Homo sapiens: one gene and its partners. The protein of the gene in region 2 interacts with the protein of the main gene of each other region in a biochemical or structural test. Each region holds a gene or a part of one and is shown on either strand. Other genes may lie near its edges. The genes, in order: USP11, PML, CCNT1, ARNT, SATB1, ERCC6 and MYB.

The links.
Region 1: the proteins of PML (region 2) and USP11 form a complex in vitro, tested with the Homo sapiens proteins (one study listed by BioGRID).
Region 3: the proteins of PML (region 2) and CCNT1 form a complex in vitro, tested with the Homo sapiens proteins (one study listed by BioGRID).
Region 4: the proteins of PML (region 2) and ARNT form a complex in vitro, tested with the Homo sapiens proteins (one study listed by BioGRID).
Region 5: the proteins of PML (region 2) and SATB1 form a complex in vitro, tested with the Homo sapiens proteins (one study listed by BioGRID).
Region 6: the proteins of PML (region 2) and ERCC6 form a complex in vitro, tested with the Homo sapiens proteins (one large-scale study listed by BioGRID).
Region 7: the proteins of PML (region 2) and MYB form a complex in vitro, tested with the Homo sapiens proteins (one study listed by BioGRID).

The regions. Positions count from the first base shown.
Region 1 is NC_000023.11:47,235,668-47,240,009, reverse strand, and holds part of USP11 (ubiquitin carboxyl-terminal hydrolase 11), read right to left. Parts: intron 941-4,342; coding exon 831-940; intron 660-830; coding exon 529-659; intron 221-528; coding exon 103-220; intron 1-102.
Region 2 is NC_000015.10:74,021,790-74,026,131, reverse strand, and holds part of PML (protein PML), read right to left. Parts: intron 3,305-4,342; coding exon 2,724-3,304; intron 1,276-2,723; coding exon 1,205-1,275; intron 1-1,204.
Region 3 is NC_000012.12:48,706,368-48,710,709, reverse strand, and holds part of CCNT1 (cyclin-T1), read left to right. Parts: intron 1-4,342. UniProt on the Homo sapiens protein: Regulatory subunit of the cyclin-dependent kinase pair (CDK9/cyclin-T1) complex, also called positive transcription elongation factor B (P-TEFb), which facilitates the transition from abortive to productive elongation by phosphorylating the CTD (C-terminal domain) of the large subunit of RNA polymerase II (RNA Pol II).
Region 4 is NC_000001.11:150,810,271-150,814,612, reverse strand, and holds part of ARNT (aryl hydrocarbon receptor nuclear translocator), read left to right. Parts: intron 1-373; coding exon 374-536; intron 537-1,274; coding exon 1,275-1,441; intron 1,442-2,502; coding exon 2,503-2,592; 3' UTR 2,593-4,342. UniProt on the Homo sapiens protein: Required for activity of the AHR. Upon ligand binding, AHR translocates into the nucleus, where it heterodimerizes with ARNT and induces transcription by binding to xenobiotic response elements (XRE).
Region 5 is NC_000003.12:18,383,194-18,387,535, reverse strand, and holds part of SATB1 (DNA-binding protein SATB1), read left to right. Parts: intron 1-924; coding exon 925-1,137; intron 1,138-4,342. UniProt on the Homo sapiens protein: Crucial silencing factor contributing to the initiation of X inactivation mediated by Xist RNA that occurs during embryogenesis and in lymphoma.
Region 6 is NC_000010.11:49,525,070-49,529,411, forward strand, and holds part of ERCC6 (DNA excision repair protein ERCC-6), read right to left. Parts: intron 3,457-4,342; coding exon 3,348-3,456; intron 1-3,347. UniProt on the Homo sapiens protein: Involved in repair of DNA damage following UV irradiation, acting either in the absence of ERCC6 or synergistically with ERCC6. Involved in the regulation of gene expression.
Region 7 is NC_000006.12:135,212,137-135,216,478, reverse strand, and holds part of MYB (transcriptional activator Myb), read right to left. Parts: intron 1,081-4,342; exon of another isoform or gene 979-1,080; intron 1-978. UniProt on the Homo sapiens protein: Transcriptional activator; DNA-binding protein that specifically recognize the sequence 5'-YAAC[GT]G-3'. Plays an important role in the control of proliferation and differentiation of hematopoietic progenitor cells.

The DNA of each region.
Region 1 (4,342 bases), on a different chromosome or scaffold from region 2:
TGCCTTCTCAGTCAGCTTCAGCTTAACCCTATGCAACCTCAAGTCACTGAGTTGGGACTAGTAGCTAGGAACACCAACCCATTGCGTGACCCTTAGACTCACCAATAGAATCGGTATGGCTGAACTGAACAGTGTGAGATTTGCCCAAATCATTGTGCCGGACAAGCAGCAGTTCTACTGGGTACACTTCGACCTTCTGGATGTTGGGCAGCTCTATGACCTGTAAGAGTAGAGGGGTGCAGACACAGGTGTACTCACACAGACACAGCGCTGTGACCTCTCAAATGAGAGGAGCACACACTCTGCCTTACAAACATAGCATACAAACACACATATACAATGGTCTGTAAAGAGAGCCACACAGGGGAACACACACAGCAGACAAAGATACCTGTATGATGAGCTAGGAGGGGGAAGAGAGCAGACATATGTGTACCTACCCAGCATACATGGATCTGTACCCATGCTGGGCCTACAAGGCTTTCTTACTACGCACTCCCCGCCATGCACCCTCCCCATCCATTATACCTTGCGTTCAATGGGTGGCTGGCCATGCTCTAGACCATACCAGCTGACCAGGTAATGCCAAGCAGCTGCTGGGAGCAGCACATAATCCTCGCCTTCCACCAGTCCCTCCTTGAGGCGCCAGTTTATCTCATCTGTGGGGCGGGGGTGGAGGTGGCAGAGGAAGAATCAACAAAGGAAACTGACGAATGACTCTGGCCACCCCACCAGTGACCTAGCACACAGAATGGGCTTATGATCATCTGTAGGGACGGAAGGGACAAGAACTCCAGGGCTAGGGTGAGAAGGAGGCAAAGGCCTTGTACCTTGAAAGAGTGTGGCATTGTTGATGCAGCCAGGGAAGGTGCTGGAGTCCTGGTCCCCTCCCTGCACGTATGCCTCCCACTGCTTATACCAGTGCTTCTCCACAAGGAACCTGGGGCCCAGACAGGTAACAAGGGTGTTACATGGGTAGCTGAGGGTTAGCTATACAACTTCCCATGCCCAACAGACTGAAAGTATTGACACATTATAATTTAAGATGAAAAGTTTCAGCATCATATAAAAATAAATTCGAAGCAAAATTTATTCAGTGAAACTCAGATTTGTATGTTAGATAACTTCTTAGTATTAAAAAAGAAATCTGATTAAAAACAGAAAATGTGGTTAACAATGGCAAACAAACCAACAAAAAATCCATACTTATAGTGCTAGGAAACATGAGGTTTTATTATAGAATAAAAGATGATTCATTTGAATTAGTCTGTGGGATAACCCAGTTAAGTTAGGCTCAAGATATGTGCCATCTGCAGCTAATTTTATAAGGCTTTAGCCATTCATTATGTGTTTGTTTCTAAAGGATCTATCAATGGAAGCATAATTCTTCAGCTAAGAACTAGATTTGATAAATGGTGAAAAATCTGCTTTTAAAAGGAGCAAAGAATTTAAAATGCTAAAAAGAATCATAAGGTTTTCCTTCAAAAACTGCATACTGAAAAAAAAAAAAAAAAAAAAAAAAGACCGGGCACAGTGGCTCACGCCAGTAATCCCAGCACTTTGGGAGGTCAAGACGGGTGGATCACCTGAGGTCAGGAGTTCAAGACCAGCCTGGCTGACATGGTGAAACCGTCTCTACTAAAAAATACAACAAATTAGCCAGGTGTGCTGGCACGTGCCTGTAATCCCAGCTACTTGGGAGGCAGAGGCATGAGAATCACTTGAACCCTGGAGGCAGAGGTTGCAGTGAGCCGAGACTGCATCACTGCACTCCAGCCTGTGCGACAGAGTGACTCCATCTCAAAAAAAAAAAAAAAAAAAAGAACTGCATATTGCTATTGTTCATCATTTTTTAATTTAGAATTTACTTTGGCTTTATAGTAAATTCCTGAGCTTATGGTTCTCTTAAAAACTGTGATAAAAACATGTAACATAAAACTTACCATCAAGCATTTTTCAGTATACAGTTCAACTAGCTCTCTTTTAAAGGTGAAACTTATATGTACTACAAGGATAACCATTTAGAACTATATTGAAATCTACCTTTGTGAGAAATCCTGAAGTTTGGAAAATACTTGACATATAATAAGTGCTAAATGAATTTTAGCTGTCATTGTTCTGACAGCTTGGACTTCAGGACTTGGACATAAAAGCTCACAGACATAAACCTCCTCCTGCCTAAACACACACACACACACACACACACACACACACACACACACATACACACACACCTGTTCTGCTGTGGCATTTCTGACACATAAAAGGCTATCCCAAATACTGAGCAGCCTCAAATAAATGCTTTTTAAAAAATAACCAAATTTGATGAAATGCACATAACATTATATTGGCTGGTTTTCAAGCAATTTAACCTCATTATTATTATTATCATTTTTTGAGACAGAGTCTTGCTCTGTCGCCCAGGCTGGAGTGCAGTGGCACAATCTCAGCTCACTGCGACCTTTGCCTGCCGGGTTCAAGCGATTCTCCCAATTTAACCTCATCAATGTGATTCTTTAAAATGTCAACTTTCCCTTGTTCATGAAAGGATCAGAGAGGTGGGAGGATGGAGGGACAGACAAATCTTGGAATAGTCACAAGTCACCTAGATAGGCAAACATTTCTGTGGGTTTTTTGTTGGTTTTGTTTTTTTGCTGCACTGACCCCCACAGACCCTGCCCCATATCACTCACACCAGGGAAACAAACCCTTCTGTGCCGGTGGCTCAATGCTCAGACCCAACCCTGCACCCCACACACCACCATCCACCCTTTGTGGCTTTACTTGCCTCCATAGCCAGTCTATGAAGTTAATTTGTTCAGTAAAGCTATAGTTAACAGTACCTTCCAATGCAAAGGTAGGCACTGCTCAACTTCTTTTTAAGAGCAGATTTTGAACAAAAAATAACATTAAAATCACGCTGTAGAGTGGTAAGCAAAACTTCCAGACCTGGTCACAGGCTGAACTTCTATAGATTTCATAGAGGACTGACATTTTACATAATTTTTCACAGAAAATTATTACCATATTGCTTCAAGTCAAAGACACTTTAAAAAAATCATTGTTAACATCTCTGAAATCAGGATGTCTCACAATCTCTGTCAGGCCAGGTGGCAGTCACAACAAAGGTGTCATGGTCTGTATCAATAACACCCAAATTATTATATTTACAGCTGGGTATTCAATTTTTTGGATGCTATCATAAATGGTATCATAAATTTTAATTTTCTAGTTTCTTGCTGCCAGTATATACAGGTACAACTGATCTTGCTAAAGTCACTTAGGTTTATTCGTGCTTCCTCAAATTTGTTGAAATGATATGAAATATGTGCTTATGGAAAAAAGTTGCTAAACAATTCTTTATTTTCTGTCTTCTAGTTTTCTCTTGTGTCTGATTTGTGTTTGAAGATGGTTCATCCCACAAAAGGAAAAAGTGAAAATTTCCAAGGAGGCTATATTATTACAGATTTGAATTTGCCTTAAAATACAAGCTTCTCCCAGAAATTAAATCAGTTGTGATGACCAAATTAATTAACTACCCTCACCCAAATCTGCCAGCTGACAAAAGACAGAAGGTGCAAATATTAATACTGATACAAGATATATGATTTGGGGTTAGTCCATGACTTCAAAATGCTTTATAAACACATATATCCTGGCCACTTAAGCAAACCCCTGTAAAATGGAAAATGGACAGCAATAAAGAACCTTGAGATGCTTTGCTCTTACTAGAGAAGCATTAACAAAGTGGAGTTTAGCAAAAATGCTTCATGATAATACCCATGACAGCAGAGACAAACCGGCTTCAACACTGAACCAACACTGGTGTGGTAATTTTTTTAATGAGGTGAAATTCACATAACATAACATTAACCATCTTAAAGTGAACAATTCAGCGGCATTTAGAACATTCACAATGTTGTACAACCACAACCTCTCCCTAGTTCCAAAATATTTCATCATCCCAAAAGAAAACCCAGTACTGGTGGGGTAATTTTAAAGCGTATTATCAAGGATGACAGGATGTCATGTCCTACCAGTGACACAATCACAAGGCTACAAAGGTAGGAAGAGGCAAGGATCAAAGCCTCAAGGCCCTTTTGAACATCTTCAAATGAGTTACAAAACACTGTGGTTATTTTGTTTATTCTCAGGATGAAATGAGGCTTTTTCTTGCTGGAAAAGTGTGACGTAATGGCAGAAAAACACGGCTTGGGTTTGTATTCCCGATTTGGAAAATCTCAACTCATCTCCCCAGTAACAGAGATACACATTTCACTGGTGTGGTTATTAAAGAACTCTGTAGTGAGTAAACCTCACTCGAAAAAGCCCTAAGGTTAGA
Region 2 (4,342 bases):
TTGCTGTGTGTAGCCTTGGGTAAGTCACATCCTTTCTGGGTCTTAGCTTCGTCCTCTGTGAAAAAAAGGGGGTTAGACTCCATGCTCTTGCCTGGCTCTAAAACTCTGAGACTCTTAAGTCCTGTCTCTTCCAGGAAGCCTCTCCTGATTGCCTCAACCTACAGCACTCTCTCTCTCCTATGGGTCATGCCATGGCAAAAGCTAGGCCCCTACCCACCACCAGAAGACCTGCTGTCCATGAAGGACTGGCCAGTCCTGGGCCAGATCCTTGATAGGCTAGGCGCATGCAAACCTGAGTGACTAGGCTAGGGAAGAGACCAGATGCCAAGTCCAGGAAGAAACCGAGGATGCTTATTCTGGTGGAAAGGAGCCATACTTGTGAATGCCAAAGGGGGCAAGTCAAAGGGACACCACTGCATTTCCACTCGGAAAAGCACTTTCTAAGTCAGAGCAGTCCAGAGTTGGGAGCAGCTGCCTCTAGAATGAGCAAGCTTCCTGTCCCTGGAGATGTGTACATGAAAGCTGGACAGCCACAGGTCAGGGGTGCTGCAGAAGGAATGCCAGCATTAGATGGGACATGGATACCTTGAACCCTGAGACAGTCTGCTTTGTTACATGTATGGTGGCCCTGGAATCACACCAGCAGAACCCGGGCAACTGGGATCGAAATCTGACTCCTGGCACCATTCCCCGTTCCTTTCCAAGAACCATCTGTGGGGAAAGAGCAGGGGAAGGCCCACCTATTCTGACTCCAAGAGAAGGCTCCCACATTGGGGGTAGGGTGTAGGAGGGGAGAGGACATCTGCACATCCCTCAGGACTGCTGACCCTATATCTAACCATACATCTGACAACCATAGTTTCTCATGGCTGGAAGGCACTAATATGCCATCTAATGCTGGAATTCCCTCTGCAGCAGCCCTGATCTGTGGCCGACTGTCTACCCCACATCTAACCCCCACTGAACCTGGCTCATGGCCCATCAAGAGCAACTTTGGCATTTAGGAGCCTAGAGTCAGAGCCAGCTAGCCAGCCAACCCTTCTTTAATGTCTTCCTTTACTTCCTCTCACTGAAATTTCCAGTCCAGCCACTTGCTGTCCCTCACTCAGACGCTCTCCCTGCACACACAGGGACAGCAGGACTCACAACCTGCCTGACCTGCTGGGCCCCACCACCACCCCTTCAGACCTCAAACCCATCTCACCAGGTCAACGTCAATAGGGTCCCTGGGAGTGCTGGCAGCCTCTGGGCTGGCTTTCTTGGATACAGCTGCATCTGTAGAACACAAAGAAGGTCACAGGCAGGTCAAGGACATGCTGGTAAGGGACATCCTGACCTGGGACAGTGATAGAGAGGAGGTCCCTGTTGCTTTTCCAGGATACCTATTTTCCAGGGCATCCCAAAGCACTGGACAACTCCCTGGAGGGGCAGCTGGAAGGAGAGCTCTCTCGAATGCAGTGGGCAGGAACCCAGCCAGAAGGGAAAAGGAGGTGGCATTAGAGTGCTTGCTTTTGGCTCCAAACCCCAAGTGTACCTCTCTCCATCTCTGAGCCAACAGCAAGGCTAAGTGTGCGCAATCATAAAGCCATCACTACCGGCTCACTGACTCTCTACATATAGTGAGAGCTCCATGATCTTCCTTATCTGCAGCCTGGTTTTTATTAAATCTAAATCTCTTATGCTTCAGAATAAAATAACCCTTCTCTCTGCTATTGCCCAGTTATAACACCCAAGGCAAGCTGTGTAAACTCTGTGGGGTCATTTCCTTAATATGGGTGACATTCACTACCTAGGTGGAGAAGGCACAGGTCCAGGCCCTCTAAGATTATCCTTCATGACCCATGTCCAGCTCCAGGAGAAGTAAATAAGCTCTTTGTCACTGGCACCCTACCCAGGTGCCTTCAGATTCCATAGCCTCCCTCCCCTTTCCCAGTAAGGGCATCCTATACTAGCTGCTCAGAGCTCACATTCCAGCTTGGAGATTTAGTCAAAGACTCCTGGAGACTCTCTGGCACACTCCCCCTACCCCTTATTTTGAAAGCCCCCCTGTTCCAGCTAATACACAGCTGCTACATCTCCCGGATTTGGATTGCAGAGCTGAGCACTGTCTCATTCTCCAGCTACGTGAAGTGGCTCTGGCTCCTTGAGATCAGAAACTAGTCTGTGTCTCCTTACCTCTCAAGCGTCCAACACTAGGCAGGGCGCGCAAAGGTTGGCAGACAGCAGGTCATCCTGCAGACAAGGGATCTCCTCCACTGAGCCACTGTATGGTTTTGGGTAAGCATCCAACCATCCCCAGGAGGTTTTCTTAGCCCCCTTCTACCGTAACCCCAGGTCCCAATTGACTTCTCTGTTCCGAGACACCGGTGGCTTAAGAGAACCTCCTGAAGTGCTTGGTCCCTCTGGCGCCAAAATGATACTGGGTCTGATTCTCAGCTTTGCAGTTTTTCAACTTTCACGTGTTCCCCATGAGTCATCGCTAGGTCAATCCACAGAGTCTTGTAAATTAGTAAAATGTGTCCCCTCTGGGTGGCTGCAGCCCTTTGTCAGGGCCTCATCTCCCCCTTATCCTGTGCCCTGGAACCTAAGACCTTACCAACCCCCAAAGACTGAATAAACACCCAGTTTTCTTTTCTGTCAAATGGAGATGATCTCTTCTGACTCGCCTTCCCTAGGGTGCAGCAGAGGCACAGGCCGCCCAGGAAGGTGGCGTGCGTGCTTACCTTTCCCCTGGGTGATGCAAGAGCTGAGGTCCTGCAGGCGCACCTTGAACTCGTCGAAGCCATCGGTGCGCACGGCAGCTTGCAGGCTCTGGGGCTCCTCCTGGCGCAGGCGGCAGAGCGCCTGGCGCAGGAAACCGTGCATGTCCAGCACCTCCTGGTCCGAGGCGTAGCACTTCATCCTCTGCACCAGCGCGCTGCCCGTGCGGATGCGCTGCAGCACAGCATCCAGGCGGCCCAGCCGACTGGCCATCTCCTCGTAGTCGCGCTGGTACCGCGCGTCCACAGCCTCCAGCAGCTCGCGCTCCTGAGCCCGCACGTGAGCTACCACCTGGCGCACGCGCTCGCGGATCAGCTCCTCGGTCTCGGCACGCGCGCGGCCCAGCTGGCCGACGGCCGCGTGCATCTGCGCGTGAACCGCGCCAAAGGCACTATCCTGCTCCTGCAGCGCCTGCGTCATGGCGTCCAGCTCCTCCTGTCGCTGCTGGATCTCTGCGCTGATGTCGCACTTGAGCTCACTGTGGCTGCTGTCAAGGAGCGCGCACGAGCAGCACAGCGGCTTGGAACATCCTCGGCAGTAGATGCTGTGGACACACAAGGTTGGCCTGGGTTAGGACTCTCCTGACTTTTTCCTCTTAAAACGTTCGTTATTAAATTCCTCTTCCAAAAATACCAGACTTTGAATCATGGCATGTTTCTAGGTTTCTGCTTTTCCTAATTCAGTGTTTGTGGTTATGGTGATAGTATCCAAACTACCAATAACACATGAGTATAAAAAGTTACTACAGTAACAATTTCAACATCCGGGAAACAATACAAAGATATACGAAACGACAATCATCTCTTTCCACCACTTCTGAATTTCCCTTCCCCACCGAGGAAGCACCAGGTGAGCATCGTGGGGTGCACCCTTCCACACATCTCTCCACTGAAACCGCCTTACACAAATGCCAGACTGGGCTGCTGCTTGCAGGATGGTACAGACTTGACACATGTCAGCCATGCCACTTAACCTTTGCAAGAGCCCCTTGAGTGAGAATTGTCGTTATACATATTTCCCAGAGGAAGAAACAGAACATGTTAAATGATTGACCTAGATATCTACAATAATTTTGGGGGCTGATGTTTGTTCAAAAAAAAAGAAAGAAAGAAATCGGCCGGGCGCGGTGGCTCACGCCTGTAATCCCAGCACTTTGGGAGGCCGGGGCGGGAGGATCACCTGAGGTCGGGAGTTCAAGACCTGCCTGACCAACATGGAGAAACCCCGTCTCTACTAAAAATACAAAATTAGCCGGGTGTGTTGCCGCATGCCTGTAATCCCAGCTACTCAGGAGGCTGAGGCAGGAGAATTGCTTGAACCCGGGAGGCGGAGGCTGCGGTGAGCCCAGATGGTGCCATTGCACTCCAGCCTGGGCAACAAGAGCAAAACTCCGTCTCAAAAAAAAGAAAGAAATAAATCAAGTCATATAATTACTTTGAACTTCCTCCTCTCAACGAACTTTCACTCAGAGCATTCCTCTAGGTGCATAGGCACAGATCAGATGTATTCTCTTTAATAGCTCTGGTATATCCCAGATGGGCCACAATTGATTCAATCACTGTCGTTTTGCTGGCATTCAGGT
Region 3 (4,342 bases), on a different chromosome or scaffold from region 2:
GTTTCAGTAAACTTATTGAATGAATGGATGATCTGGTAGTTATCCAATATAGAGATATTCTTTCAAACATTTTTATATATATTTATTTTTTAGAGACGGGAGATCTCGCTCTGTTGCCCAGGCTGGTCTCAAACTCCTGGCCTCAAGCTGTCTTCCCACCTCAGTCTCCCAAAGTGCTGGGATTGCAGGCATGGGCCACTGCACCTGGCTAGTATAGGGATATTCTTTTGGATGTCATGACCTTTTTCAAAATCCACTGATTAATTTGAAGTTGTTGATCCTTTTTAGAGGATTGATTTTAGGCACATTTTGGAATCAACAGATTCCAGATTTAATATCACCTTTTAACATACTAATTCTAAGTTTAGCTGTGATGAATCCAAATTTAAATGTGAGAGGACTTAATACATTAAATGTGGCCTAATAATCAATGTGGCATTGATATGTTATATATCCTGTCAAGTCCTCAGGCATTTTTGTATGTGTGTGTGTGTTTTTCTTATTACAAAGGTATTAGAGGCTGGGCGTGTTGACTCAGGCCTGTAATCCTAGCACTTTGGGAGGCCGAGTTGGGTGGATCATTTGAGGTCAGGAGTTCGAAAACATCCTGGCCAACATGGTGAAACCCCGTCTCTATTAAAAACACAAAAATCAGCCGGGCATGGTGGCGTGCACCTGTAGTCCCAGCTACTCACTTGGGAGGCTGAGGCAGAATTGCTTGAACCCGGGAGGTGGAGGTTGCAGTGAGCTGAGATCGTGCCGTTGCACTCCAGCTTGGGTGACAGAGTGAGACTCCATCTCAAAAAAAAAAAAATGAAGAAACCCAAAGATATTATAATAAATTCCCATGGTAAAAATTAAGACAGTACAGAAATGTATGTGGAAAGTGAAAACTACTCTGTAATCCCACCCAGAGATAACCATTGATAAATGTTTGGTTTATAGTGACCCAGACATTTTTCTGTGCACATAAACTAGCATTGAGGTATTTTTATTTAAAAAATCATATCTTGCTATGCTACTGTTGCACAGCTTGCCTTTATCATGTAACAGTATGTATTGGACATCTTTCCATACTTCCCTTTATTATTTTTTGGATTTCTTATTATTTTAATTTGCCACATGGTATTTGTGTAGTTACTGTAGTTTATTTAACCAGCTTTTTATTGATAGCTATTTGGGTTGTTGTTCTAGTTTATTATATTGTACATTATGTTTCATGGGATAGTCTTGTACATATATAGTGCACTTATATAAGCATTTTAATACAAGTTCCTATAGGTGGAATTGCTGTGCCCAGAGTATACAATGTATAAAAATTTTTGTAGTGTCAGTTTGCCCTACTGAAAGATTATACATTGTTTCCAGCACTGTAGGTGAGGGTCCTTTTCTTTCCACCCTAACAAACAACAAATATTAATTACCTCAAGAAACATTTATCTAGTTCTTTGTTTTTGAAACGGAGTCCCCTCTGTTGCCCAGGAGTGCAGTGGTGCCATAATTTAGTTTAGTTTTATTTTGGTTTTATTAGTTTATGCCATACTTTTAGTTTCTAATAGGCTTAAAACCTTAGTCTTTGACTTGTCCTTTTCCCCTTTGTTCAGTTAGTTATAGTCCCCCCCAACCCCAAGATAGGTTTTTACTCTGTCACCTAGGCTAGGCTGGAGTGCAGTGGTACAATCATAGCTCACTGCAGCCTCCATGTCCTGGGCTCAAGTGATCCTTCCACCTTACCAAGACTACAGTGCCACCACGCCCAGTGAATTTTCCTTTTGATTTTTTGTAGAGATGAGGTCTTGCTATGTTGCTCAGGCTTGAGCTCAAGGGATCCTCCTGCCTTGGCCTCCCAAAGTGCTAGGATTATAGGCAAGAGTCTGCACCCAGCCTATAAAGTCTTGCTAATTTTATAATGTTACCATTTTTTCCCTCTCCTTATAAATATGTACTTTTTAAATTATCAAAAAATTGGAAGAGGACGGACAGGAAATAAAGAGATAATCCTGTTAACATTTTAGAGTATATCCCATTAGAATTTTTTCTTTGTATGCAAGTACATGTACATATATTTAGTGCAGCCCTATTAGTTTTACAAAGTGATGCCTGTGTTTCTTTTTTCCTTTATTTCTACTGCTAGTGTCTAAACTTTTTTTTTTTTCTTTTTTTGAGACAGAGTCTCGCTCTGTGGCCCAGGTTGGAGTGCAATGGCGTGATCTTGGCTCACTGCAACCCCCACCTCCTGGGTTCAAGCGATTCTCCTGCCTCAGCCTCCCAAGTAGCTGGGACCAAAGGCGTGTGCCACCACTCCTGGCTAATTTTTGTATTTTTAGTAGATATGGAGTTTTACCACGTTGTCCAGGCTGTTCTTGAACTCCTGACCTCAGGTGATCTGCCTGCCTTGGCCTCCCAAAGTGCTGGGATTACAGGCGTGAGCCACCACGCCCGGCCTACTCTAAACTTTTTAAAATTCTTTTTTCTATATTTTAAAATAATTTTTAAAAAACAGAGACAGGGTCTCATTGTGTTACGCAGGCTGATCTTGAACTTTGGGCTCAAGTGATTCTCCTGCTTTGGCCTCCCAAAGTGCTCTAAACTTTATGTCCTAATGCCTAAATTATTATTTAAGTTAACTTTTATTTTATTTTTTGAGACAGTATGGCTCTGTTGCCCAGGCTGGAGTACAGTGGCATGATCTTGGCTCACTTCAACCCCTGCCTTCTGGGTTCAGGCAATTCTCCCGAGTAGGTGGGACTACCCTACTACAAGACTCCTGAGTGGTGGTGTGTGCCACCACGCCCGGCTAATTTTTGTGTTTTTAGTAGAGACGGGGTTTCACCATGTTGGCCGGGCTGGTCTTGAATTCCTGACTTCAAGTGATCCGCTACCTCGGCCTCCCAAAGTGCTGGGATTACAGGCGTGAGCCACAACACCCAGCCTGAATTAACTTTTAATGTATCCCATCCTTTTCTCCTAGTTTTACCTACCATCAGATTACTCCTTCTAAATATTACTTTGTTTTAAAAATTTATTTTTATTAATTATCATGGGTACATAATAGTTATATACATTTATCATAAACATTTCTTAAACGATATTTTTCAAAATCTTTAGTGTCACTCTTGTTAAGAATCTTGGCTGGGTGAGGTGACTCACACCTGTAATCCTAGGACTTTGGGAGGCAGAGACAGAATTACTTGAGCCCAGGAGTTTGAGCAGCCTGGACAATGTAGGGAGACCCCATCTCTATTAAAAATAAAAATAAATTAACTGGGTGTGGTGGCGTGTGCCTGTGATCCCAGCTACTTCGAAGGCTGAGATGGGAATATCTCCTGAGCCCAGGAGGTTGAGTGGAACTGTGATTTTGACGCCACTGCACTGCAGCTGGGTGACAGAGTGAGATGCTGTCTCAAAAAAAAAAAAAAAAGAAAGAAAAAAAATCTAGTGTTCCACATCCGATTATCTAATGTATTTAACTACTCAGTTTAGTATTGAAAATGTGCTTTACGCCTAGATCACCATACCTTTGTTCATATCCATTTTTCTCTGATCCTGTTTTGTTTATCCTAAAGTCTGAGGAATATATATGTAGTATGCTTCATATTCATCTGAAACAAATGTGAAGGAAAAGAATCACTGTGTTTACTTAAAACAGTTTTTTCCGTATGTGTATGGAGATGGAGTCTCTCTCACTATGTTGCCCAGGCTGGTCTCGGACTCCTGGGCTCAAGTGATCCCCCGCCTCTGCTTCCCAAAGTGCTGAGATTATAGGCTTGAACCACTGTGTCTGGCCTAAAAAAATTTTGTTTTAAATTATTTTTGTCTCCTATGGTCTTGTCTGAAATCAATACTATGAGTTGAATTTGTGGAGAAAAACTTACTCTAGAAAAGTATAGCATAGGTGACATCAGGGTTACAAATAAGTATTAGAATATCAGTTCTAGTCAGTAAAATGAAATATATATTTAAATTCTGTAAAATTATTTATGTATTTCTTTGACTCCTGGTGAAATACAGCTCTTAGCATTACTATCTTTGAGTCACTGAAATGTTCTTAATATTCAAGAAAAGTTCTATTTCCTGAAGTTTCCAAGATCACCAGGCTACATTTATGTCATATTGCTTTAATCTTTTATAAAGTTTGTTATCTACTTTTATATTGACTTCAATTTTTCCCTCTTAATGCTTTCTATAAATAATGTCTTGCATATAATGCCATGCTTTGTATTTTTGAAAGGTTCGATATGTATAAGTAATTGAGATATAATTCACGTACAATGAAATTCGTTTGTTTAAATTATATAGTTCACTGGTTTTTAGTATATGCGCAAAATTGTGCAACCATCAG
Region 4 (4,342 bases), on a different chromosome or scaffold from region 2:
GCCTTGGCCTCCCAAAGTGCTGGGATTATAGGCATGAGCCATGAGCCACCCCGCCTGGCCTGCATATAATACTTTACTGTTATGAATGCCTCTAGTTTTATATAACTTCACAGTTTATAAGATGCTTTCATTTAATTCTTACAATTTTTATTAATCCCATAGTTCATTGCTTTTTTGTAATTTTATCTCAGCTGCCTAAAAAATAGTGTCAAGAGAGATTGAGAGTTAATTGGAAGAAATATACAATAGGAAATAAGTGATGAGCTTGGTTCAGAAGGATGCAGTGATTGACAGTGTTGACTCTCATAGGCATGGTATGTGCAATGATGTTAATGCTGTATTTGTTCTATATCCCCTCTCCATCTCTCTTTAGCAGGTGGCTACCCAGGCTACTGCTAAGACTCGTACTTCCCAGTTTGGTGTGGGCAGCTTTCAGACTCCATCCTCCTTCAGCTCCATGTCCCTCCCTGGTGCCCCAACTGCATCGCCTGGTGCTGCTGCCTACCCTAGTCTCACCAATCGTGGATCTAACTTTGGTGAGTCCAGACCATAAGGAGAGTAACAGGAAAATCGCACCACTAAAGAGAAAGGATTTGGTAGTTAAAGTTGTTTGCCTGTGTTGTGGGTACACTGACCTGATTGTAGGGAAATGCAAGGTGACAATCTATTTAGAATTTAAAACCTACCAGCTGGGTGCGGTGGCTCACGCCTGTAATACCAGCACTTTGGGAGGCTGAGGCAGGCGGATCACTTGAGGTTGGGAGTTCAACCCCAGCCTGACCAACATGGAGAAACCCTGTCTCTACCGGGTGTGGTACCGCATGCCTGTAATTCCAGCTACTCGGGCGGCTGAGGCAGGAGAATCGCTTGAACCCAGGAGGCAGAGGTTGCGGTGAGCTGAGATCGCGCCTTTGCACTCCAGCCTGGGCAACAAGAGTGAAACTCCGTCTCAAAAAAATAAAAAATAAAAAAAAAAAACTACCCACATGAAAAATACTTTAGCACATATAACAAAAATCATGTGAATTTTTATACATTTAATAGTATGCACATTTAACCTAAATGAGTAAAGAACTCTATGGAAAGGCTGCCTGGAGAAGAAGAATTAATTTAGGGCTGAGTTTTGAGATAGAAAAGGCATTGATTGGCAGAGAGAAGGACAGAGTTATCCTAGGTAAAATTAATGGCTTACCTATAGTTGTTTACTTGTGGCATTAGTACACAATGGAATTGTGTAGATTGGAGTTGTTTATTCTTCCTTGCTGTATTTCTAGCTCCTGAGACTGGACAGACTGCAGGACAATTCCAGACACGGACAGCAGAGGGTGTGGGTGTCTGGCCACAGTGGCAGGGCCAGCAGCCTCATCATCGTTCAAGTTCTAGTGAGCAACATGTTCAACAACCGCCAGCACAGCAACCTGGCCAGCCTGAGGTCTTCCAGGTAAGAGAGTGAAAAGACTTTCAAAAATTAGAAGCTGGGAGAGAAAGGGTCCAGGAGGAGGAGAGACAGTGAAGGAAGCATGCCTGGATTGAGGTGTTTGGTTGGGGGTATATGTGAGAAGACAGAGAGGGATAAATGTAGGGATCACTGTCAGTTATTGAAAAGATTGCAGAAGCTAGATGCAGTGGTGCTTGTGTATATGATGTCAGCCCCTTAGAAGGCTGAAGCAGGGGATCACTTGAGGCCATGAGTTCAAAGCCAGGCTGAGCAACTAGCCTGATCCTGTCCCTGTCAAACAAACAAAAAAGGAGTATGAATTGAGTGTGATACATACCATTTAACCAGAACAGACAAATTTAGCACCATAGGAAGATGCCAAAGAAAGTTACTTTAGCTCATTCAAATAGCTCCATATACCCAAGTCACAGTAGCTTTGGGTTTAAAAGAGACAGAATGATTAAAAATAAAAAGTAGTGCTCGCTTCAGCAGCATATATACTAAAATTGGAATGAATATAGAGAAGATTAGCATGGCCCCTGCGTAAGGATGACACACAAATTCATGAAGTGTTCCATTTAAAAAATTATAAAAAGTAAATGAAATAGAACATAATGATTATAGCCATAATGGTCTATTTACACAAGTCCTGAGGGACTGCAAGAGTGAATGGAGTAATCTTAGGCAGGACAAAGGAAGAGCTGGTTTAAAGCAAAGATTGAAAGAAAGCAAAACAGGTCTTGGTGGAAAACAAATAGGATAAGAGACTCCATATATGTCTATAGGGGGTTATATGAAATACAGCAAGCAGATTTTTCTCCCTTTGAAAATATTGAGAACTAGGAAAAGGAAAAAGGTGGAACTGTAGGAGGAAGACAGAAGGGATTAGGAAAAAAGGCTGCGATCTAAAGGAGTCAAAGTTGTTGGAAGTAAGGAAGGCTAAGAGCTCAGCACAGCAAAGACTCGGGGTCAGGGATGGTAGTGCAGGGGAATGGTGGAGTAGAACTTGGTAAGTGTAAGAGATCAAGGTGTGTGACCCAAACTTAATCTTTTTCTTTTATCAGGAGATGCTGTCCATGCTGGGAGATCAGAGCAACAGCTACAACAATGAAGAATTCCCTGATCTAACTATGTTTCCCCCCTTTTCAGAATAGAACTATTGGGGTGAGGATAAGGGGTGGGGGAGAAAAAATCACTGTTTGTTTTTAAAAAGCAAATCTTTCTGTAAACAGAATAAAAGTTCCTCTCCCTTCCCTTCCCTCACCCCTGACATGTACCCCCTTTCCCTTCTGGCTGTTCCCCTGCTCTGTTGCCTCTCTAAGGTAACATTTATAGAAGAAATGGAATGAATCTCCAAGGCTTTTAGGACTGTCTGAAAATTTGAGGCTGGGTGAAGTTAAAACACCTTTCCTTATGTCTCCTGACCTGAAATTGTATAGTGTTGATTTGTGCTGAGATCAAGAGGCAGGTTAGAAGAACCTGACATCCACTGTTTGCCTTGGATAGTATGGCTTGTTTTTGGAAAGAAATTCTGAAGAGAGTGGAGGAGAGGAGAAATGTCCTCATATTTGAGGACCATGAAACATTGTAGGTATATATGGGGCTTTAGCAAGTTTGAGCATAGGCTCTTTTTGCTGCCTGTGAGCAGTCCCTCTGGAAAGAAACATGTGAGTAAGTGAGAGAGAGTGTGTGTGTATGTGTGTGTGTGTGTGTGTGCGCACACATGCTTCTGTATTTCACTCTTTCTCCCTATTAGGGAGTTATGCAAAATTTGTCCCCGATTTTACCTTTGTCTTTCTGTGTACTTTTCAAAGAGTCCTAAGGAGTTAAATCTTCCAGGTATTTTCCACTTAGTATTGCAGCCAAAGAATATTTAAATAAACGTCTTTGCTGCGCTTGCATCCATGCCCAGCCAATATACAACTGTAAAGCAAATATAGAAAGTCGGCTGTTGATACGATTGTCTGTTATCGAACACATTCAGTGATAAAGCTGGGTTACTGCTGCTTTTGGTGCTCTCACCTTATCTGGAAGATCTGCAAACATTACCTAAATAGGCTGGCAAGATAAACACTTTCTGGAACCCGAGACTTGGCCATAAAGATAATGCTGCATTTTTCTGTCAGAATCACATATGATGTGTGTTCTGTAGAGGTTATTTCTGCATGGAAACTCAACTTCTTGGATTAGCCGTCCCAGTGAAAATCCTCATTGTTGGAGTGTAAACCAAATACGAAGCCCTCTTGCAAAGTAGCCTCTTTCATCCCATACTCAAAATACCCAGTTTAGCAAGCAACTGAGATTTAAGTCTCTCTGGCCCTAAGAGGTTTTTCCTCTTTGCTCCCTCCAATCTTGAGATTGGGTTTTGCTTTAGAGTGCAAGTATCATAATTCCGTATGATAGATGGGGCCTGGACACCCATCTCAACAGGGTCACTTGGTAATTAACAATAGCCATATAAATGCGGATACAGGTTACTACCCTCACCCTTTACCTTCCTCAGGTAACAGTCGTAGATACCAGCTTTTTTTTTTTTTTTTTTAAATTGGCTTTGGCCAGTAGCTAAAGTGCAAGACTGAATTAATGAGAAGATATATTAAATGTAGTCATAGGGGACTGAGGAGCAAGGGTGGCCTTGAAGAGGCCAAAGGAATGTCCATTTGCTGAGTTTCCCTTCCTTATGTCTCCAGTCTGGTGCCAGGTAGTGGAGTAAAAAAGGAGACAGTTTATTTTTTTATTCTATGTGCACACTTACAGTATACATATATATTTATATCACAATTTACGAAACCAAAAAGTTGAGTTTCCAATGGAACCCTTGTTTTTTAATAATCGACTTTTTAAATGTGATCAGGACTATAATATTGTACAGTTATTATAGGGCTTTTGGGGAAGGGGAGGATA
Region 5 (4,342 bases), on a different chromosome or scaffold from region 2:
TGAAAGAGTTCTTCCAAAAGTTAAAAAAATTAGTTGAAAATTGATGTTCTGTTATTTAGGGGGGAAAGACACCTTAAGAGTTTTCTAATGATTTATAAATTTCTTCTATCACTAACAATTTTTATTCCCCAAGAAATTTGATAATTACAGAATTTGATACTCTTTTCCTTGGCATGCTGTGATGGACTTTCGCAATGTTGAAAATTAGTTAATATATTTCAAATCTTGTCTATGGTTTTTAAAGTTCAAAATTTAAACCTGTTACCCAGTGGTATAATACAGCAAGATAGTATTTAGAATCATTTGTGATAATCAGTGAGGTTCTCTGAAAATGGTAAATTGAAAGGGTCACGTAGTGTCATGTACTTTGATAAGTCAGAGTTTAAGGAATAATTTTAAACATTGCCTGTGAAAATACAGCATAAACCTTAGGTGATGCTTTAGTAATAACCTTTGTTCTAATATGTTAAAATTCATTTTCTGGTATTTTCTTTGAAAGTTCTACTTCTCTAGAAATGGCTTTGTATCTTTACATATTGGGCTGTAGGCATTACACTGCCTTTGTCTAGGCAGCTTGGGAACTATACAGTTCAGTGCTGTTGCATTATAAGGATTTCGTTTATTCTTAACTTCCCTGGATCGTCTCTCTGTGAAAGATTTCATGGCAAGTTAAGCTACTCAAAGGAAGGAGACCAATTAGGCAGTTTCAGTTTATGTTATATGTAAAGCAGATGCTTAATAAAATTAAGAATACAATTGAGGCTCTCTTCTCTACCACTTCAGTTGTAACTAATATATTCCTATGCAGAATTAATGCCTCTGACTGTTCATTTTCTAAACAGAGTGGAGAAGAAAAGGGAAGGATCACTGCTGGCCAGGCAAAGCAAGGCAGCAGGCTCACCCTGTGCCTTTCATTTCTTGCAGGGCTTGCTTTCAGAAATCCTCCGAAAGGAAGAGGACCCCAAGACTGCATCCCAGTCTTTGCTGGTAAACCTTCGGGCTATGCAGAATTTCTTGCAGTTACCGGAAGCTGAAAGAGACCGAATATACCAGGACGAAAGGGAAAGGAGCTTGAATGCTGCCTCGGCCATGGGTCCTGCCCCCCTCATCAGCACACCACCCAGCCGTCCTCCCCAGGTGCGGTCTCCTTTTCCTCCTTGCCCTTCTTTGTTTAGCTTTTTTTTAATGCTTGAGGAAGAATCTCAATAAGAAATTAGATAGATAGATACATAGATTTATATGTTTTTAAATTCGTATAGTTGCTTGAGGAGAATTTGGTCCCAAATCATTAATTCTGATATAAAAACAATAAGCTCCTAATTAGATAGAGGGAAGAAAATTGCTTTGTGTTCCTTCATTCTTTGGGTTATTTGGGGGTGAAAGTAGTCTTTAAATGGGATATTTGTCTCTACTGTTGTTATTAAGTAAAGTATTTTAAACTCAATAGAAAAAGAATAAAGTCAGTTTTTTCCCAACTGGTTTCAGAATCGCCATTTGAATAGTAAATAAATAAAAATAAATAATTTCATTTGTATTTATACTTTCCAGTACGAACTGCAGCTGGTACCAATTACACACCATCTCATTTGTAATCTTTCATAATTAAGTTTAATAAAATCCTTGAAGGCAGCTTTAAATGGGGCTGATAAGGAATTCTATCCATACTCCAAGATACGGGCATGTTTTCTCTTTCTTAAAATTTTTGGACTTTTTAGGAAAGAAAGTTGCCTTCCGGGTAACTTTGGGTATGTGAATCTGTATTGTTTTTTAAACTAAGTTTTAAAAGTAACCTCATAACTGTTATAATTCAGTAAATCAATTTGCATTACAAACCCTTAGATAAAAGTTTGCTAGTTAGTGTATTAGACTCAAAAACCACAAGCAAATATATTATCTTTTTTTTTTTTTCTTTTGAGATGGAGTGCCGCTCTGTCACCCAGGCTGGAGTGCAGTGGCACGATCTTCACTCACTGCAAGCTCTGCCTCCCGGGTTCACGCCATTCTCCTGCCTCAGCCTCCCAAGTAGCTGAGACTACAGGCATCTGCCACCACGCCCAGCTAATTTTTTTGTGTTTTTAGTAGAGACGGGGTTTCACCGTGTTAGTCAGGATGGTCTCCATCTCCTGACCTCATGATCCTCCCACCTCGGCCTCCCAAAGTGCTGGGATTACAGGCCTGAGCCACCGCGCCCGGCTGCAAATGTGTTTTCTTACATGTTTAACTTGTGACATTTACAGCTCTTAAAAATAAGGTCAGTTAAAATTGGATAAAAATTGAACATGGAAGAAAAAGTCGAAATATTCATATGACAATCTCATAGTGAAATTGTATCTCGATTTTACTTCATTCTCATCAATGGTAGAAAGTGGTTATACATTTTCATGTATAGAAATCTAGAAAAAACTCATTCAACACTAAAGAGTGAAAGTACTACGGATACTGCATAAATAAGAAATATTTAGCCACTTGTTGAGTAGCTAAATAAACTGCTTATCATAAGGTTCTGAAACTATTACTTTTTAGAAATGTCACAAAATCCATTTTCACTAGTTTATTTAATGAAAATCAATCTGGTCTTGATGTCTATAGGAACAGACTATAAGGAAATCATTGCTATAATTGTGAATAAAAAAGTCATGCTTCTTTAGGAGAAAAGCATGGCATCTATATACGTATGTACACACCCACCTGCCCACGCACACAAAGTTATTGAATTTGATCTCTAAATGCTTCTATAAAATATTTCCTAAGATAAAGAATGAGGAACTCTTTATGTATAAAAAATATGACTTCTAAGTATGGTTAAAGAGAAAAGATAAACTATGACTTCTAGGAATGATAAAAAAGAAAAAATATACGAAATGAAATAAAATAATTTGGTTTGGTACTTTTTCTGTAGTGTTTAGTGTTAATACACACACTTTTATTAGTTAACTTTGCTCCTGAAGTCACCACTGACAGGGCTCTGAGCAGAGAATTACTTTACTTATCACTTAATCTGCAATACTAATAAAAGAATGGCTTACTTAAGACCAATATGAACTTCAACATTGAACTGCTTTAAAAAAAAAAAAAAACATCTAGCCAGATATTTGACTTTGTGGTTCCTTAATACAGCTTTTGTTTTCTAATTTTTCTAGGACTCTGGTTTTATTTATTTTCCAAATGTGATTTGGGTGTCCTTACTCATCAAGCTTTTTCTTGAGCTAAAGTTATACCAATTCTTATTAAGTGATATTTCTTTTCATATGCTGTTAAGATACTATAGGATAACTTTCCTGTATGTATGCTTAAAGGCTTTATCTGCTGATAAGTTGGGATAGAATATATGTTTAATTTATTTTTGCCTGAATTATTGGTTAACTGGTTGTGCCACCCTTAGCTGTATTTGTTTGTTCTGAAGAGGAGCTGAGACCAAGCCCATAGCTAGGGTATTCAGCCAATGATGAAAATATACAGTATATACATACTGTAGATTCTTAGTGAAACTCTTTCAAATAAAACATTTCTATTACTGCAGTATTACTGGCCATCTAACCAAACTCCAAAATGACTAACTGATATGTGTATGTGTGTGTAATTTTATTTTGCTGCTGCAATATAAATCTTTAAATTATTAATATTATTATAATGGAGATCACTACCAGTTTGTTCACATTCTTCCCTTTAACCATGATTAAATGAATTAAATTTTAAGAAATCTTAAGGTATTAAAGGTATTATCAATGCAAAATTAGTACTTTAGATTTGGAAAAACACGTTATAGAGCACTTGAATTAGTGCTGTCTTGTAGCAGTTGAAATAATGAAATGATGCTTAAACTGGAACCAGTATGCATATTAAAAATGAGTTAAAATAAAGGATAAAATGGAGAAAACCACAGATAACACAGACTGCAAAATTTTGTCTTTTTAAATTTTACATTTTGCCAAAGAGGAGTCCATGTGAAATCAGTATACATTTCATTTCCCCCAAAATGAGGAGATTTGAAACATATTTTGAGACAAATCTTGGGTTTGGGTTGCACCTGAAACCTGATTTCTTTCTAAAGAACCACATGTTAAAAGCAGAGGCCCTCAGTGGTTCACAGAAAACCCAGCCCCCATTAAGGCCTGGGAAACTGGATTCTCTTCCACCTCTTTATAGAGTGTAAAACATGCAGAAGATGATTTTGGAGTGCCCTTGGGACATACCATAACAAGGACCTAAACTATTGAAGGACTTGAATTCTAAGTCATCTTCAAGAAAGGACTTCCTGGCTAGTCAGACCCCACCTGGGGACACCTAGCCTCAGGAAACACCAGAGCTCCTTGGTGGCCCAGTCCAGGTGAGATGCCTCCCT
Region 6 (4,342 bases), on a different chromosome or scaffold from region 2:
AGTTATAAATAGTCAAGTTTAGCTGTGTTTCCTTATCAGCTGAGTAGTCGTCCATGAGGAAGCAAGCTCCGAAGTTCTCACGTCATTGCTAAAACCAACATTCAGATGGACTTAAATTCAAGAGACAGTAAAACCAAAAACAGGGATCACCATGTACCTAAAAAGGAAAAACATAAATGTCAGCTCTATGCTGCCCAGCATGGCAGTTACCAGTCACCTGCAGCTATTTAAATTTAAATTACATTAAGTTAAAAACTCAGTTCCACAGTTGCATTTGCCCTTTTTCAAGTGCTCAAGAGCTACACGTGACTAATGGCTACTATAATGGGCAACACAGAGAACATTTTCATCACTGCAAAAAGGTCTATTGGACAGCAGCACTGTGTTAGATATGTGAAGTTAACTGACTTGAAGACATTACACCATAAGTGTAAAGTCACCAGAAAGTATCCCTCTTTCATTAGTTGAAATTCATCTCTGGCAAAATTACCACATAACCAAAATACCAAAAGACCTAAGGCTTAATAGGAAGGAATCCATATTCTAAAATCTACAATTCTTGCAGGCCAATGATACCCAGTTTTTCATTAAACTTGCACTGAAATAAAACATACATCTGAAAGTGCACAAATCATTAAGTGTAGAACTCAGTGAATATTCAGAAAAAATGTACTCATAAACTAGCAGCCATATCAACTAACAGAATTACTAGCACCACCAGATGAGCCCTTCAGGCTACCTCCCAGCCTCTACGCCCCCCAAGATAATGATGGACCTGGACTCCTAACGTACAGACAAGTTGTGCCTGTCTCTGAACGCTACGTAAGTGGAAATGTTTGTGCCCTGTGTCCACCTTCCTTCACCCAACATTATGCTTTTGAGCTGCATCCTTACTGTTGAATGTAGCTGTAGTTTGTTAACTCTCACTGTTAATGCACATTTGAGTGGCTTCCAGGTTTTGGCTACTAGGAATAATGTTGCTATGAATATTCTGATGCACATCTTTTGGTTTTATTTATATTTATATATTTATATATTTATATATTTTTATATATATATATATATATATATATATATATATATATATATATATCTGGGTATGCTAAGCTTTAGTAGACACTGTCAGTTTTCCAAAGTGTTACGTTCCAAAGTCCCCATCAACTGTGTCAGAAAGTTCCAACTGGTGTATATTCTTGCCATTCCATGTTAGCTATTTTGGTAGATGTGTAGTGGTACCACATTATGGCTATAATTTACATTTCCCTGATGACTAACAAAATAGGTGCCTTTCATGAATTTATCTTTTGGATAGCCTTTTTTGTGTAGGAAGTGTTCCAGTCTTTCGCCCATTTTTGTTTGTCTGTTTCTTTAAATGATTTCTAGTTCTTTATACATCCTAGATTTGAGTCCTTTGATTCACACATGTATTGCAAATATCTTCCCCAGCTCAGTATCTTGCCCTAAATGCTATCTTCTGATGAACAGAAGTTCTTGGTTTTATATATAGTCCATTTAACAAATCTTTTCCTTTACACTGAGTATTTTGCCTCAATTAAGCCTTAGGTCTTTACACTGAGTATTTTGCTTCCTATTAAGCCTTAGGTCTTTTGGTATTTTGGTTATGTGGTAATTTTGCCGGAGATGAATTTCAACTAATGAAAGAGGGATACTTTCTGGGTGACTTTACAGTTATGGTGTAACTTCCAATTTCAGTTCATGTCTTCAAGTGTTGGCTGGTGTCCAGACGGAGAGATATAATAGGAACCAGGAACTCAAAAAAAGAGCAAAGCCAGATGTCTACAGATCTGTATAAGGTACTAGTAGAACCTAGGTGGCTGCAAAAGCCATGGGGAATAGATAACCAGGGAGAGGCAGTAGAACAAGAAGAGGGCTCAAAGAAATCCTGAGAAACATCAATATTTAAGATATGGCCAGAAATAACTATGCAGAAGTAGTCAGAGGGCTAAAAAGAAAACCAGTAGAGAAGCAGGGATCCCACAAGGAACAGAAGTGTCAGCTGCTGTGGACAGGCAGAGTGGAACAAGGATAAAAAGGGGCTCTTGGATTTGAGGAGGTAGCTATTAACCCTAGACAATGTAGCTATTAACCCTACTACCAAAGTTTTAGCTATTAACCCTAAGAGGTAGCTATTAACCCTACTACCAAAGTCACAGTAGGAGGTGAAAGACAACAGCAGATCTGAGACGGCCAGACAGGAACAAACATCTGTTATCAATGAGAAACATAGTACACAGCAGTTAAAAGCACTGGTCATAGGCCTAATGAATTCTGAGAGGCTGAACTTTAAAACCACGTACTTTTGGGCTGGGTGCAGTGGCTCACACCTGTAATCCCAGTACTTTGGGAGGCCAAGGTGAGCAGATCACCTGACGTCAGGAGTTCGAGACCAGCTTGGCTAACATGGTGAAACCCTGTTTCTACTAAAAATACAAAAAATTAGCTGGGCATGGTGGTATGCGCCTGTAATCCAGCTACTTGGGAGGCTGAGGCAGGAGAATCGCTTGAACCCGGGAGGCAGAGGTTGCAGTGAGCTGAGATGGTGCCATTGCACTCCAAACTTGGGCAACAAGAACGAAACTCTGTTTCAAAAATATACATATTTTTTTCTATTGCTTCAATTAATTCTTCATAACAATTCTCATCTTACTGAATAAACTTCTAAAGCTAGTAGAAAATAGTTGCTTAGAGAATTTAATGCTAAGCAGCTTTAATCTGTATTTCAAATAGTCAATGCCTATGCAGCCACCAACAATTTGTACACACACACACACATACACACACACAATGACTGCAAAGATAATTTAGTTCCAGAGCTTACGAATTTTCCCAAAAAGTTTTCCAAAAGACAACCATCCAAGACAGTAATGTAAATGAAATACTGCCCAGAGTACCTGAATGAAGATGTCTTTTCTTAAACTGATGCTTGGAAAGCCTGCCAAATACGCTCTTTAAAGACACGTGAGAGCCATTCTACAAATGCGATTAATGATGTTGGGCTTCCAACATGTAATTTAATCATGATGCTAGTTGTCTTTATCAAATTAACAAAATAAGAATGTTTAAGATTTCCAGTGTATTAAATGTAATAATAAATGTGTACCAGCAGCCTCCTATGAACTGAGTTAAAAGTTTACTTTAATTCTCTTTGAGAGGGATTTGGTTCTGCAGGTGTAGAGAATAAAATTTTCCTAAATCTGTTTTGACACTAAGGCAAAGAAACGTATTTTTCTCAAAACCCAGGCAAAGACTAAAGAGACACCCTCCACTGACTACAGGCATCAGGCATCAATTCAAGAACACAGAGAAACTGCTCCTAGCATCCTCACCTGCATCCTCCTCCAGACTGGCGTGATCTAGTTCAATTTTCACCTCTGCTCCTCCAAGGATGGCCTGGAGATGCTTTTGTTTTGCAGTGATCTTTTTTAGCTGTTGTTCCTTGAATGGTAAATATAGAAGACAGAAAACAGCAATGAAGTGATTTATTGTTAAATACAAAAGATAGCATTATGAAATTTTAAACTTAAATCCAAAGTAAAATAAAAATAATATACATTACATAAAAATTCCATACATTACTATTACTAGAGAGCCCTATGTGAGCAACTACCACTTTTCTAGGAGTAAAGGGGCCGTGAATATTCCCAGCAGACAGGCATGCCTGCACCCCCATGCTCTCCTGAGGACGGCAGACTGCCTTCTATGTGCCCGAGCCCTTAAATACATGGGCACTGACCTGAAAGGTGGACTTGTTCTACTTGGTTTCCCCCTTACACACTGGGCAAATCCCTAAACTACTCTGTATTTCTGATTCAGAACCAATGGGCTATGGAAGTCAACAGGCCATAAGATAAGAAATAAAAACACAAATGTTCAATTGAAAAAGTTAGTCTCCTTTGATAACCTACTATATTTATGACTGTCCTTTTAGTATTCTACCTAATCAAAAAGCTTTAAGAAAAAAATATATCTTGCCATGCCTCTCCACCCTGGCCACGCCAGACTCCTCTTTGTCTTGTTCCCTTCCACATCACCAGAACTCAGATATGTGCCCTTGGGCTTCACTGGGGAGGCCCAATGAACTGGGCTTGTGGTACCTGGTTCATCTTTCCAAGGTCAAGAATGTTTCAACTTCAAATACGAGTGTGGGACAAGGGGAAATCCTGAACATAAATGCCACACTGCAATGACTTGCAATTTGTTTTTTCTCAGTTTTTCTCTCAGCAACATTCTGTCTAAAGCACTTTCCCTCTGAATAGTCTACCTCTAACCATCAAAGAGCTGCTAAAGACAAGAATGCATAATTAAGTTAGACTAGGACCTG
Region 7 (4,342 bases), on a different chromosome or scaffold from region 2:
ATCTAGAGATGACTTAAAGTATACAGGAATGAACGGGTACAATGTACATTATTCCAACGATAAATACACTCACAGCCTCGACTTTGACCACTATGCAATACATCCATGTAACAAAATTACACTTGTACCCCACGAATGTATACAAATAATAAAAAAAATTATATGGTAAGATGTGTGTAGATTATATGCAAACACAATGCTATTTTATATCAGGGACTTGAGCATCCCTGGACTTTGGTGTCCTTGCGGGTTCTGAAACAAATCCCCCATGGACACTAAGGAACAACTGTAACATGAAGATGGTATGAGATTTGCACACGAAACACCAGCATAAAGCACAGTGCCCCAGCTAGATGTAACCTCCTGCTTGACTCTGATCTCTCTAGCAGTCAATGCAGAGAGGGGAACAGAAACAAACAGATATAAGATTTGGTGGCTGTAAGCTCAAAAGGAAACCAGTGGGTTAGAAAAGGCACTATTCCTGGTATTGCTATCTGGAGGGATTATTTTCCATGGGACAAAAGAATAAGAAAGGCCTTAGCTGTTCAGAGCCTACAGTGTCCTTTATGAGACAGAATGGACACAGGTGAAACAGGAGGAATAATAACAGGCCGTGTGCGCAGGTTTGTGGTGTTGTCCATGGGAAGAGGGGATGGGACACTGAGGAACTGTCAAGGCAATGCTGTGGGGAAAGGGTGAAAACAGCTAAGATTAGGGGAGAGAGAGGTGGAAACGCAGGGATGTCATCCAGGGAGCGAGATAGCAGGAAAGAGGCAGGAAGCTGCAATTTGTACATTGCCAGTGGGAGGGGATGTGGAGTGGGGGAGGGCTGAGAAAGAAAGGGTTAAACGACAACATAAAACAAGCCCTCACTATAGGCACCGCATGCCTCTAAGTGTTATTGATATAACTCCTCTCATTTAATTCTCACACAAAACACCTGTGGCATAGCTACCATTCACTGCATCCATTTTACAGACCAGGCAATTTGAAAGGAAGAGAGGATTTAGGCGCCATACTCAAGGTTACCTGGGTAAGAAATGATGGAGCAAGAATGTCACCCATGGGACCACACCCCTGGTGAGTACCAGACGCTGCCTCTAATTCGAGTTCTTATCAGAAACAATAAAAGGAACCTGGGAAGTTGTGTGCTCAGGGCACCAGGGCCTTGGAATCCAGGAAAGTGCTGAGATGGGGTGTGAGAGTCACCAGACTTCTTAGCAAAGAAACATAATTCTACTAAAACAAGGTATGGGTACAGTGGTAGGGTTTCCTTGCCTAGTTGCTGCAACAAAGTTTCCTGACATAGGGTTTGCAGTGTAATGTTCTAGCTTTTAAACTTTCCTAGGGCACAAAGCTTGTGCCATCTCCCCACTGATGTCAACAGCACTGTCTATGAATAGAAATGTTCACTCTGCAAGCTCAGAGGCTCAACATATAACTTGAAATACTACATAGCAAGATGGATTATCATAATATTTTCCAGGAACTGAGTATCTCAAAAATGACAAGACAAAGATAACAGACAGGTATTCTGAATTGCCTTCTATTCCGAATTTAATGTTTTCCTAAACAAAATTACCAGGTTAGTTACAGTATTTGAAATAGTTCTGAATAAATCATGTTTCTCTAGCCTCAAGCATGCAGGTGAAATACGCATATCTCTCTGGTGTCTATCTGTCCATACAAATTCCCGAAACATGAAATTGACACAGGAAACCAATTAAAAAACAAAATTTAATGTTATCTTTTCAGTTACTGAGCTTGCATTTGTAGTCGCTACAACAGTGTGACATTTAATAGTGACTACTTGAGGGTGAATAGTTCAATATGGTGAATATGAAGTACGATGCAGGGCTTATGGCAAGGATTAGATGCACATGGAGCCAAGGACTTGGATCTTAAAGAACAAGTGACAAAACAGGAAGCAGAATGAAATATCTTAATATCATAATATCTTGTAGGTAAATTTAAATTTACATAAAGACACACATAGAAAAGAAAAATACTTGAAACAAATGGAGGGGAAGGGGAATGAAGGTGAGAATGGAGATGTGAGAACCAGGAAAGAAAGGATTGCTTCTGTTTTACTCTAGCTAAGAATTTTTCCAAAGTCTTTAAAATGGCCTATTAGAATTTTTTTTTTTCTATTTAGCTGGGCTTCAATCAATATAGAATTTTCTTGTCCATTTTTCTTTTTTTTAGATATAGGGCCTCATTCTGTTGCCCAGGCTGGAGTGCAGGGGCGTGATCACAGCTCCCTCAAACTCCTGGCCTCAAGCAAGCCTCCCGCCTCAGCCTCCTGAGTAGCTGGGACTACAGGAGTGTGTCACCATGCCCAGCTATGTTTTTTAAAAAAAATTTTTTGTAGAGAGCGGGGGTCTCGCTATGTTGCCTAGGCTGGTCTCAAACTCCTGGCCTCAGGTGATCTTCCTGCCTTGGCCTCTCATAGGGTTAGGATTAAGGATAAGCTACTACAACCAGCCAGAATTAATTTTCTAAATGCGTAAATTATCTTAAATGCTATGTTAAAACAATCTTATGCTTGCTATTACTATGCCTCCTGTTAAAAGTCAAGTTCTGTGTCTTTTTTGTTTTCGTTTTTGAGAGAGGGTCTTGCTCCTTGCCCAGGCTGGCATGATCACAGCTCACTGCAGCCTCCATATCCGGGGTTAAAGTTGATTCTCCAACCTCAGCCTCCTCAGTAGCTCAGACTACAGGCAGGTGCTACACTACACCTGGCTAATTTTTGTATTTTTGGTAGAGACAGGGTCTCGCTGTGTTGCACAGGCTAGTCTCAACCTCCTGGACTGAAGTGATCCACTTGCCTTGGCTTCCTAAAGTGCTGGGATTACAGGCATGAGCCACTACACCTGGCCTAAAAGTCAAGGTCTGATCCTTTGTAATATAGTCCTTAGGTTGACTCAGAATTCCCAAAGTCGATTCAGGAGAATCTAGTACTAAGTATTATCAACTGAATCTATTTTCAACTTGAAATCTGACTGTGTTCCTGTGAGATCCCCTACACAGCTCATCACTGTATTCATATTTAGCTCTTCCTCCAGGACTAGGTATTTAAAAATGAGATCAATATAAAGAAGGTACCATATATTTGTAATTAGAGTTCTGAGAGACCTTTCCAAATAGTTAGCTTCTCCTAAGTCAAAAGAGAATTTACCAAGAAACAAATAAAAATGAAATATCCAAATTCCAGAAAGCATAGCATTTCTGAGTCATATATCCCCTGAAGCTCAGAGCTAGGGCAGCCAAGATGACTTGGAACGCCTGATTCTCCCAGTATAGACAAACACCAGGATGTGGTAGCCACCATGTACGAGAACCACTGTGTGTAGGAACAAAAAGGCCACCAAGCATGAGCGAGGCAGCTCCTTTTCTGCACCAGGAAAGCACAAGACAAGCACATCTTACCACAATAAATGAAACAAACTGGTCAGAGTAGACATATGCCTATGTCGTGAAAGTCAAGGAAGATCAGAAGATTGAGTACTTTGGTACAAAAAAAAAGAAACGCTCCCTTTCTCCCATCTTACCTGAAGCCTGGGAGCCCCATGCCAACTTTTCATGCAGAAAGAATTATTTTGACAAAGGAAGATTAATGTCTTTGTGCTGGAAGAACATTTTTAAATACTGTCATACATATCTTTGCAAATTCTCCTTGTTCTCTCTCCCTAAACTTTAGTTTCATTTACCCTAAAGAACTGCTGAGAATTATGGGTTTCTGCATATGAATTCTTGTTAAGTTACTAACCCATGGTGCTCTTGCAGACATGTCACTCTATCATAATTCATTTCAACATTAATAATCCTACCCACACATCCTCCTCCTGTGGCCGGGGAGTCATCTCGCTTATCCTGTAATGTGCCTTTAATTGCCCCTGGGCAGAAGTGAACTATAAACAGTCTGTCAAAGCTTTAACTGGGATATCCTGTTAAAGCACTTTAAATAAATATTGCCATCTTTTGTAGAAAACAGAAGAAATAAAAAGAAACAAGACCATGTCCACAGGTGGTTTTCTGTCAGAATTAGATGATCTTCACATTTTCATTTAGAACATGAATAGTTTTTTCATCAAGCTGAACAAAAACGGTTCTTATTATTATATTCATACAGCAACTTCACCCAGTATCTGCTGGCTTCAAAAGCCTTGGCAAATTATGTGTTTTACAATTTGCTGACCTAATAAGAAACTTGTATAAACTAAAAAAAAAAAAAAAAAAAAAAAAAAAAAAAAAGTAAAACCAAAGCAACTCATCAGATGGTATCATGTTTTTATTGTGTTTTGTTTTAAAATAAGCAGGCATCAATGGTATATAAAACAGT